Linked DNA regions of Homo sapiens. The protein of the gene in region 2 purifies or fractionates together with the protein of the main gene of each other region. This does not show direct contact. Each region holds a gene or a part of one and is shown on either strand. Other genes may lie near its edges.

Region 1 (3,550 bases), about 62 Mb from region 2:
ACAGGGTTTCACCCTGTTGGCCAGGATGGTCTCAATCTCCTGACCTCATGATCCGCCCGCCTCGGCCTCCCAAAGTGCTGGGATTACAGGCATGAGCCACCGCGCCCAGCCTGCCTCCATCGGTTTTAAGTGACAGGCGCCCAGTTCATACTGACTTAAGCAAAAAGGGGAGTTTATTGGTTCAAGTTCAGAGTAATCCACATACAGCTAGTTCATGGTTCATGGTTCCAGTGTGGTCAGGGATCTTTTTGTTTTCGTATCTCAGCTCCTCTTCCTTTGGGTTGGCTTCATTCTCAGGGAGGTTCTCCTCAAGAGATGGCAAAGATCAGCACCAGCAATCCAGGCTTATGTCACTGCAGCAAGTCCAGTGGGGAGAAAGCCCCTTTCCTCCTCTTTCCTTTCTTTCTTTCTTTTTTTTTTTTTTGAGACGGAGTTTTGCTCTTGTTGCCCAGGCTGGAGTGCAGTGGTGCCATCTTGGCTCACTGCAACCTCCACCAACCGGGTTCAAGCGATTCTCCTGCCTCAGCCTCCTAAGTAGCTGAGGTTACAAGCATGTGGCACCTCGCCTGGCTAATTTTGTATTTTTAGTAGAGATGGGGTTTCTCCATGTTGGTCAGGCTGGTCTTGAACTCCCAACCTGAGGTGATCTGCCTGCCTCAGCCTCCCAAAGTGCTGGGATTACAGGCATGAGTCACCGTGCCCGGCCCCTCCTCTTTCTCAAAATAGATCTGGGCAGACTTTTATTGGTTCAGTTTAGGTCATGTGCTCCTTTCTGAACCAATCCCTATGACTGGGGCAATGGACAGCTCTTATTGGCTAGGCTCAGGTGATGGGTGCACCTCTGGATTAGGGCCAATTCCTTCTGCTCCACTGAACTGGAAATGGAGAGTGGTGGCTCTGCAAGGGAAAATGGGAGTGCAGTTACCACCTCCGCAGTACTCTTCTGAGGATAACATGAGATGGTGTGTTGCAAGCAAGTTATCTCTGTGCCTCGAACGTGGAAAGCCCTCAATAAGTGGCTAGCTGCTGCTTTTATTATTATATTGTTTGAGAAAAACAGGTGATGAACAAAGGTACCTTTGATAGCACCTGTATACAATGCACTGGCTGGAGAGGAGTGAGACTGACAACAAGACTGGCAGATGTTGCTGGGCGACAGGCCCATGAGGGGTTATTAGGAGTTTCTCTTCTCTTTGGATCTGTCTGTGGAAATGGTCAAAGACCATGGACAAATACTGAGAAAAAACAGCCCAGGTAGAATGCGAAACTTCTTAGGAGAACCTCAGGTTATATTGTGATTGCATCCGTTACCTGCTGTTCTTGGTGGAATAGAACTGAATGGTGGCTATGCTGACCATGTGATCTTTCCCTCCTAGGTTCTCCTCAGTGAACTGGCAGTACCAGTGTGGGCTTACCTGTGAGCACAAGGCCGACCTTCTCCCTATCAGTGCATCCGTCCAGTTTATTAAAATTCCTGCACAGTTACCCCACCCCCTGACAAGGTACTCCAGTTGCTCACCTAGTTGACATTAGGAAGCAGAAAAATATATATTTGAAAATTGGAAGTTTATTCCTTTAATCAAGTTCTGATACTTCTCACTTGTAGTTTTTGTAACCCTCTAAAATGTTTTCTAGATTCCAGATCAATTATACAGAGTATGACTGCAACAGAAATGAGGTGTGTTGGCCGCAGCTTCTATATCCATGGACTCAGTATTATCAAGGTAGGGTGAAACAGATTTCTATGACCAATTATGTTATGTCAATTTAAAAAAATTTTTTAAATGATGTCTAAATGTTACAGAAAGCATAAAACATATAGAAACTTAAAAAAAAGTACGGATAATATTGCCACTTGGAAGTGATCACCATTACTGTTTTGGCTTAGTTTATTTCTACCTACACTGTTTTTTTTTTTAGAGAGTCTTGCTCTGACACCCTGGCTGGAGTGCAGTGGCACAATCTCAGCTCACTGCAACCATTGCCTCCTGGGTTCAGACAACTCTCGTGCCTCAGCCTTTGGAGTAGCTGGGATTACAGCACCAATATGCCTGGCTATTTTTGTATTTTTAGTAGAGACGGGGTTTCACTGTGCTGGCCAGGCTGGTCTCGAACTGGCCTCAAGTGATCCGCCCTCCTTGGCCTCCCAAAGTGTTAGGATTACAGGAGTGAGCCACCACACCCAGCCTATACCTACACTGTTATCAAAAGAGTTAAGAAATACTGCTGTTGAATTTTGTCCATTGTTTTTCAGGGGAGCTGCATTCTCAGTGTGTTGCTAAGGGCTTACTGTTGCTGTTGTTCCTCACATTGGCCTTGTTCCTCAGCAACCCCTGGACCAGAATATGCAAAGCCTATAGTTAGACAACCACCTGGCTTTTATTTTTTTGAGATGGAGTTTTGCTCTTGTTGCCCAGGCTGAAGTGATCTCGGCTCACCACAACCTCCTCCTCTTGGGTTCAAGCGATTCTCCTGCCTCAGCCTCCGGAGAACTGGGATTACAGGCATGCACCACCACGCCCGGCTAATTTTGTATTTTTAGTAGAGACAGGGTTCCACCGTATTGGCCAGGCTGCTCTCGAACTCCTGACCTCATGATCCGCCCATCTTGGCCTCCCAAAGTGCTGAGATTACAGGCATGAGCCACCGCACCCGGCCTTTTTTTTTTTTTTTTTTTTTTTGAGGCGGGGTCTCTGTCACCCAGGCTGGAGTGCAGTGCACAATCTCGGCTCACTGCAATCTCTGCCTCCCAAGCAATCCTCCCACCTCAGCCTCTGGTGTAGCTGGGACCACAGATGCTCCACCATGCCTGGCTGTATTTTTGGTAAAGACGGGGTTTCGCCTTGTTGCCCAGGGTGGTCTGTAACTCCTGAGCTCAGATGATCTGCCCACCTCGGCCTCCCAAAGTGCTGGGATCACAGACGTGAGCCACTGCGTCCGGTCCATCTGACTTCTCAAAGACTTTAGACCTTGACTTCAGTGATTTGTTGTAGTCTTGTATGCTTCTCTATAAAATTTTAATAAATGAAATGTCTTATTTTTGTAGAAAATTTTTATTAAGTGCCCTGTGACTTTAATTCATATATGTAGCTATCCAATGCAGAATGAATATTCTCATCGCTGGCCTGAACTGAGTAAAATGCATGAGAAGAACTCAAAAATGTTAGAAATTTTAGCTTATCACAAATTAGTTAAAGTCATAGGAGTTTTATTTATACCAGAGAGAATCAGTCTTTTCTTTAGTTTTTAATACATTCGTGTTGATTGATGTTTCCCATATTCCGTAGAAAGGATTAAGAAATCCTTAAAAATGCATGTAATACAAAAACACAAAATCACTGATGGGGAAAGATATGGGGGCTGCGGGAGGAAAATAATAAGAGAAAAGTAAAACAAAACCAGGGGCACATGTAAGCCCTAAAATACATGCCAGAGGTTGCCTTTAGCAGAAGCAGGCCCCTAATTCATTATTTATTTATTTGTTTTTTGGAGACAGGTTCTCCCTCTGTTGCCCAGGCTGGAGTGCAGTGGCACGATTATAGCTCACTGT
Region 2 (3,656 bases):
GCATAATCCACCCAAAGAAAGTCAAAGTGTTTTTCTTTATTATTAAACTCAACAGAAAGTTCCATGTGCAGCTACAGGAGGCCATAGGCAATTAACACTGAAAATTGAAAGGTTCAGAATGTTTGCATGACCTTTAAAGGGCAACACCGTTGCCCATTCACATGCATGCAATTATGCAGTGACTAGTTTGTAGCAGCAAATATATATATATTTATTTATATTTAGTAAAACAAACCTTGCATTCATCAAAAACTACTTTGAACTTTCCAGGCTTCATGTAGAGAGTTAGCTTTACATAGTACAGGAGACTTGTTCAGCTGGTTCTCTTCATTTTGTCAAATTACTAAATTCAGCCTATCACCGTAATTGCTAGAATGCAACATTATCACATTATTGAATCTCTCTGTAGAGTTTCCAAAATCTACTGCATAAAGCTACGTTTAAAAGAAGCAATATAAATATAAATTTAATTGAATGACTATGTTTGTACTATTGCTGGGGAAAGGGAGATGTAACTTTGCTAACTAGCCATTCAGGGGAAATCATAAAACAATTACAGCTACTATGGAGTAACTTAGGAGATTGAAGGAAGTGATTAAAAGGACTTTATCTAATATAAACATATAAGCTCTGATTCCTTAGTTATATATCTCATACTCCACATGAACCACTGAACAAAATAGAGTATTCTTCTTACAGCTTAAATATTTACTCTTCATCTGATTTCAAGTAAACTAGAAACCTTATGTTTTCCAATGGCAATACCAATCAATTGCCTAAGTATTCCACTGACTAGCTTGCCTAATATTACAGCACAGGATAAAATCCAACATATCCATGTGGTATACACATTAGAAACAGGTGGATTTTGGAAAACTAACATAAATTTGGAGTATGATATCAATATATTTCTGGCAATTTTGTAGATACCATTTTAAACGAGAATAGTACACGCCAATGTAATACATAGTTTGTGCATTGACTATGGAGGTGTATATTCAATAAAGACAGCAGCACACAGATATGTTCAGCGTTCAAAATGTGTCAAAATTCCCAGTTGTAGTGTCAATAAAAACATCCACAGTGTCTCCGCATTGAGGACAAAAATGATTTTTTTTGCATTTGTAGCCTAGTAAATAAAAGTATCTCCAAAAGAAAAATTCATGAGAAAAATAGAATGTATTAACAATGGCTCAAACAGTAAAACTCAGTTATAAATGACGTTGTCACACTATGCATACAGTTGTACTGCAAGTCAAATCATGGAAAATAGTGGAAAAACTATGCACCTATAAAGGCAGACATTCTACAAAGTTGTTCTGATCACCCTGTTACGTAAAACCAGTATTTTACATGGGTGTCATTTAAAGCATATGTATGTATGTATGTATGTATGCATGTGCATATATGTATAGATACAGAGATTATATTGTTAGGTACTACAGAGAAATATATTTAAATACTTTCACATTCCAATATGTCTAACTTATCCTCTTAAAATTTCTGTAAGATTAAGAAGACAAGAATTGTTTATTTCATTGACGACACTGCACTGAATGAATCACTGCACTGAATGAACAAAATCAGACCTTCTAAAAATTACCCAATAAGTCAGTGGCCAATGACAATTAAAAAACAGAAACTAACTTCTATGTCTCTGTTTGCTGGGCTCACCTGTCAATCTCCTGTTTCAGATTGTGCTCCGAACCTAAAGTAAAACTGTTTTCTAAAGACTAATGGTAACTCAGTGTGAAATTATTTCTTCTCTTTCGATGGAATAATTAAATAGTTCAATATGCTCAAAGTAGTTCAAAATAAAGTTAACCAAAGAATTTTCAAATAAGATGGTAAATTCACCATATTACATGGCATTATAAAATCAGTGGTCCAAAAGCAGGCTATATCATGTGAAATTTTGTGTAAGCATGTGGCCAGATATGAAGTTGATGCAGCTGGTTTGGCCTTCATATCTAGCAGCAGGCTGTGTTAATGCATTTCTTCTCTTTGTTTCGATGAAGCCCTACTAATAACAGGTTGATGAATTGCATTTGCAAATGTCAGGCATAGATCAAAGGGGATGACGGCTTGGATGATTATTTTACCCCAAGTTGTGATTTTTCACCAAGAAAACAAAACTGCATTGCACAGTAAGGTTCCTTATTTTTACTTGAATCTTCAATGAACAAAACAGCTGCAGAAAAATGTGACTTAATGAGGCATCCCTAATAAAATACTGCAGAAGTAAAAGCAGGGGCACTGAACTGTTTGCACTCTGGTTGTTTCATCTTTTCAAATATATTAGAAATAACTGATGACACTTTGGAACATTCCTTGTTTGGGACATGCATTAGAGAGTTCGTCAGTAAATGTTCATCAGTTTGCAGTGATTGCTGAACTTTGGTGCAATCTGACAGGACCTTTTCTTAGGGGCCAAGATAAGAAATGACTGAGAAATCCTGAAGATACATATCTTACCCTTCCTGTATAAGGTAATCCATAACTTGCAATTAGTGATAAATCATCCTTAAATGTGTATTTTAACACAAAAATACATTTAAAAATGATCATCAAAATACTACATTGAAGACACTGGATCCAGGACTACTAACATTTTCTGATAAAATATAAAATAATTTTTAAATTTTTCTACCACCCTCTAAATTTTATCATTTTATAAATTTTTAAATAGGAAAACTGGCCATATCTAAAAACATATTTTTACAGCCATGTCATCACATTTTATAACTTGGTGGTTAGTAAATACCATATTGCCATCTCTAAGCAATATGTAATCTATTTTTACATAAATCCATAGGCAACTCAATGAATCTTCATTCTCCAATTTGTCATTGTTAAAATAGCTAATATTTTTCTAATGCAATATCACATATACTTAGAAGCCTTAATTCCCCTTTAGCAGAACCTGTAGCATTATATAGGCATTTGCTTTAATGTCAAAAATTCTGGGTTCATCTTTAAGAGACACATATCGTAGCACTCTACATAAATATGAATTCAAGCATCCTAAAGTACTAAATTTTTTAAAGGCAAGAAAAGAATCAAGATTTTCACATAAAAAAAAAAATGCCTAATCTGAATAAAACAACACACTAAAGCCATTTGCCTCTTAAAAGATTCCCTGTGCCTAAGTATTCAGTTGGCAGTGACATCAACCTCACGGACTTTTAGTATCTATAAATAATACAATCCAACTTTTTTATTGAAAATTAGGAAAATGAAAATATTTATAAGCTCCAGTGTGGTAACTGATGGCCTTTAAGTGGCTACTGGTGGCTTTAAAAATTAAGATTCTAAAAAGAAAGGTCAACTCAAACAATTGACTCAGGATGAGATTCAAAACAAAATAAAGTAAGGAAAGAGACAAACATGTCTGATCTTTTATTTGAAATATAGGATGTTAGGTGCCAATTTTGATATTGCAAATGATTAATCAGTCTGAGAGTACAAATGCAAACATGGAAAGGCTGGGGTAAGTACAAATAATCTTAATCTTCTGATTTTTAAAGCTTTAGAAGTGTTTTTAATCTCCTTTCCTGGTTATTTTGGTTTAGCACTTTACACAAAAATCTTAAATTAATTGTTCATTTGTCTTAACTTATATGCCTAATAAAGCAGTTTAGGAGTGTTAATTGACA
Region 3 (3,656 bases), on a different chromosome or scaffold from region 2:
GCCCGACACAGTGGCTCATGCCTGTAATCCCAGCACTTTGGGAGTCCGAGGTGGGTGGATCACAGGGTCAACAGATTGAGACCATCCCGGCCAACATGGTGAAACCCCGTCTCTACTAAAAATAGCAAAAATCAGCCGGATGTGGTGGCGCGCATCTGTAGTCCCAGCTACTTGGGAGGCTGAGGCAGGAGAATCGTTTAAACCCAGGAAGTGGAGATTGCAGTGAGCCGAGATGGTGCCACTGCACTCCAGCCTGGGTGACAGTGCAAAACTCCGTCTCAAAAGAAAAAAAAAATCAAGTTCCTGCCTTTTACTATTTCAGTGGTGACAATGGATATTGGAACTTGAGGGAAATTCTAATGTAGTTAGTTGTATCAGTCTTAGATTTCACTGCAGGTTATCAAAAATCCCAACTAACACTGGCTTAAGCAAGATTTGCATCTTGTTTCTCATTGTGTTTAAGATGTCTGGAGGCCATCAGTGTAGGGATGGCAGTATTGGGATTTCTTTATCTTTCACCCCAGCCTGCTTGATTGACATTCCCAAGGTCATCTCATGACCCATAATGATTGTCAGAGCTTTAGCTATGTTGTCCACATTCCAGCTGGCAGGAAAGAAGTGTTAAGGTGGGACATACCACTTTCCTTAAAGAACGTATCTTGGAAATTTCACACTTCAGATCCTTTTAGATCCTATTGACACAACTTAGTTACAGGGATACCCTTAGCTGCCACCTAGGTCCAAGAGAGCCTGGAACAGATAGATTTTACTCAAGGAAGCCATGTTTTTCTGGAACATTCTGGAGTTCTGTTACTGTGGTCACAGTGAACCATGTCTGTCACATGGGTGGTTCTCAAACTTGGTTGTGTGTTAGAATTACATATCAAAAATGTGTATCCATGAGACCTACCCCAGACCTACTGACTAAGAATCTCTGGGAGTAGCCCCTGAGAATACAGATATTTAACAAAAGAATATATCCAGATGATTCTAAGATAGGAGAGATTGTTTGGAAACCACTGCTTTAGGCTGGACACAGTGGCTCACGCCTATAATCCCAGCACTTTGGCAGGCCAAGGCGGGTGGATCACCTGAGTTCAGGAGTTTCAGACCAGCCTGGCCAACATGGTGAAACCCTGTTTCTACTAAAAATACAAAAAAATAGCTGGGCGTGGTGGAGGGTGCCTGAAATCCCAGCTACTTGGGAGGCTGAGGCAGGAGAATCGTTTGAACCTGGGAGGCGGAGGTTGCAGTGAGCTGAGGTCATGCCATTGCACTCCAGCCTGGGCAATAGAGCGAGACTCCGTCTCAAAAAAACAAAACAAAACAAAAAAAGGAAACCACTGCTTTAAGGAGCAGCACATAGGATTGATGAATTTTCTTTATCCCTGTGTTCCTTGAAACATAAAACAGTCATATAGGAATTCAGATCTTGAACTCGTTGACTTTTTTTTTTTTAAACTTTAAATTCTGGAGTACATGTGCAGAATGTGCAGGTTTGTTACATAGGTATACATGTGCCATGGTTGGTTTACAGTACCTATCAACCATCATCTAGGTTTTATGCCCCACATATATTAGGTATTTGTCCTAGTGCTCTCCCTCCCCTTGCCCCGCCCCTCAACAGGTCCCAGTGTGTGATGTTCCCCTCCCTGTGTCCATGCTTTCTCATTGTTCAACTCCCACTTACGAGAGAGAACATGTGGTGTTTGGTTTTCTGTTCCTGTGTTAGTTTGCTGAGAATGCTGTTTTCCAGCTTCATTCATGTCCCCACAAAGGACATGAACTCATTCTTTTTTATGGCCGCATAGTATTCCATGGTGTATATGTGCCACATTTTCTTTATCCAGTCTATCATTGATGGGCATTTGGGTTGGTTCCTAGTCTTTGCTATTGTGAATAGCACTGCAGTTAACATACGTGTGTGTGTCTTTATGGCAGAATGATTTATAATCCTTTGGGTATATACCCAGTAGATTGCTGGGTCAAATGGTATTTCTGGTTCTAGATCCTTGAGGAATCACCACATTGTCTTCCACAATGATTGAACTTATTTACATCCCCACCAACAGTGTAAAAGCGTTCCTATTTCTCCACATCCTTTCCAGCATCTGTTATTTCCTGACTTTTTAATGATCGCCATTCCAACTGGCATGAGATGGTATCTCATTGTGGTTTTGATTTGCATTTCTTTGATGACCAGTGATGCTGAGCTTTTCTTCATATGTTTGTTGGCCGTATAAGTGTCTTCTTTTGAGAAGTGTCTCTTCATACCTTCGCCACTTTTTGATGGGGTCATTTGTTTTTTCTTGTTAATTTGTTTAAGTTCCTTGTAGATTCTGGATATTAGCCCTTTGTCAGATGGATAGGTTGCAAAAATTTTCTCCCATTCTGTAGGTTGCCTGTTTACTCTGATGATAGTTTCTTTTGCTGTGCAGAAGCTCTTTAGTTTAATTAGATCCCATTTGTCAATTTTGGCTTTTGTTGCCACTGCTTTTGGTGTTTCAGTCATGAAGTCTTTGCCCATGACTATATCCTGAATGGTATTGCCTAGGTTTTCTTCTAGGGTTTTTATGGTTTTAGGTCTTATGTTTAAGTCTTTAATCCATCTTGAGTTAATTTTTGTATAAGGTGTAAGGAAGGGGTCCAGTTTCAGTTTTCTGCATATGGCTAGCCAGTTTTTCCAGCACCATTTATTAAATAGGAAATCCTTTCCCTATTTCTTGTTTTTGTCAGGTTTGTCAAAGATCAGATAGTTGTAAATGTGTGGTTAATTTCTGCGGCCTCTGTTCTGTTTCATTGGTCTATATATCTGTTTTGGTACCAGTACCATGCTGTTTTGGTTACTGTAGCCTTGTAGGAGTACCATGCTGCTTTGGTTACTGTAGCCTTGTAGTATAGTTTGAAGTCAGGTAGCATAATGCCTCCAGCTTTGTTCTTTTTGCTTAAGATTGTCTTGGCTAGATGGGCTCTTTTTTGGTTCCATATGAAATTTAAAGTAGTTTTTTCTAATTCTTTGAAGAAAGTCAATGGTAGCTTGATGGGAATAGCATTGAATATATAAATTACTTCGGGCAGTATGGCCACTTTCACAATATTGATTTTCCTATCCATGAGCATGGAATGTTTTTCCATTTGTTTGGGTCCTCTCTTATTTCCTTGAGCAGTGGTTTGTAGTTCTTGAAGAGGTCCTTCATAACCCTTATAAGTTGTATTCCTCAGTATTTTATGTTCTTTGTAGCAATTGTGAATGGGAGTTCACTCATGATTTGGCTCTCTGTTTGTCTGTTATTGGTGTATAGGAGTGCTTGTGATTTTTTCACCTTGGTTTTGTATCCTGAGATTTTGCTGAAGTTGCTTATCAGCTTAAGGAGTTTTGGGCTGAGAAGATGGGGTTTTCTAAATATATAATCATGTCATCTGCAAACAGAGAGAATTTCACTTCCTTACTTCCTGTTTGAATACCCTTTAATTCTTTCTCTTGCTTGATTGCCCTGGCCAGAACTTCCAACACTATGTTAAATAGGAGTGATGAGAGAGGGCATCCTTGTCTTGTGCCAGTTTTCAAAGGGAATGCTTCCAGCTTTTGCCCATTCAGTATGATATTGGCTGTGGGTTTGTCATAAATAGCTCTTGTTATTTTGAGATTTGTTCCA

Evidence for each region.
Region 1: the proteins of TAFA2 (region 2) and TCTN2 purify together in Homo sapiens (affinity purification with mass spectrometry; one large-scale study listed by BioGRID and IntAct). This does not show direct contact.
Region 3: the proteins of TAFA2 (region 2) and LARGE1 purify together in Homo sapiens (affinity purification with mass spectrometry; one large-scale study listed by BioGRID and IntAct). This does not show direct contact.

Annotation. Positions count from the first base shown.
Region 1 is NC_000012.12:123,705,350-123,708,899, forward strand, and holds the end of TCTN2 (tectonic-2 isoform 1 precursor), read left to right. Parts: intron 1-1,376; coding exon 1,377-1,502; intron 1,503-1,635; coding exon 1,636-1,724; intron 1,725-2,254; coding exon 2,255-2,364; 3' UTR 2,365-3,050; downstream 3,051-3,550.
Region 2 is NC_000012.12:62,186,118-62,189,773, forward strand, and holds part of TAFA2 (chemokine-like protein TAFA-2 precursor), read right to left. Parts: intron 1-3,656. UniProt on the Homo sapiens protein: Has a role as neurotrophic factor involved in neuronal survival and neurobiological functions.
Region 3 is NC_000022.11:33,644,400-33,648,055, reverse strand, and holds part of LARGE1 (xylosyl- and glucuronyltransferase LARGE1), read left to right. Parts: intron 1-3,656. UniProt on the Homo sapiens protein: Bifunctional glycosyltransferase with both alpha-1,3-xylosyltransferase and beta-1,3-glucuronyltransferase activities involved in the maturation of alpha-dystroglycan (DAG1) by glycosylation leading to DAG1 binding to laminin G-like domain-containing extracellular proteins with high affinity.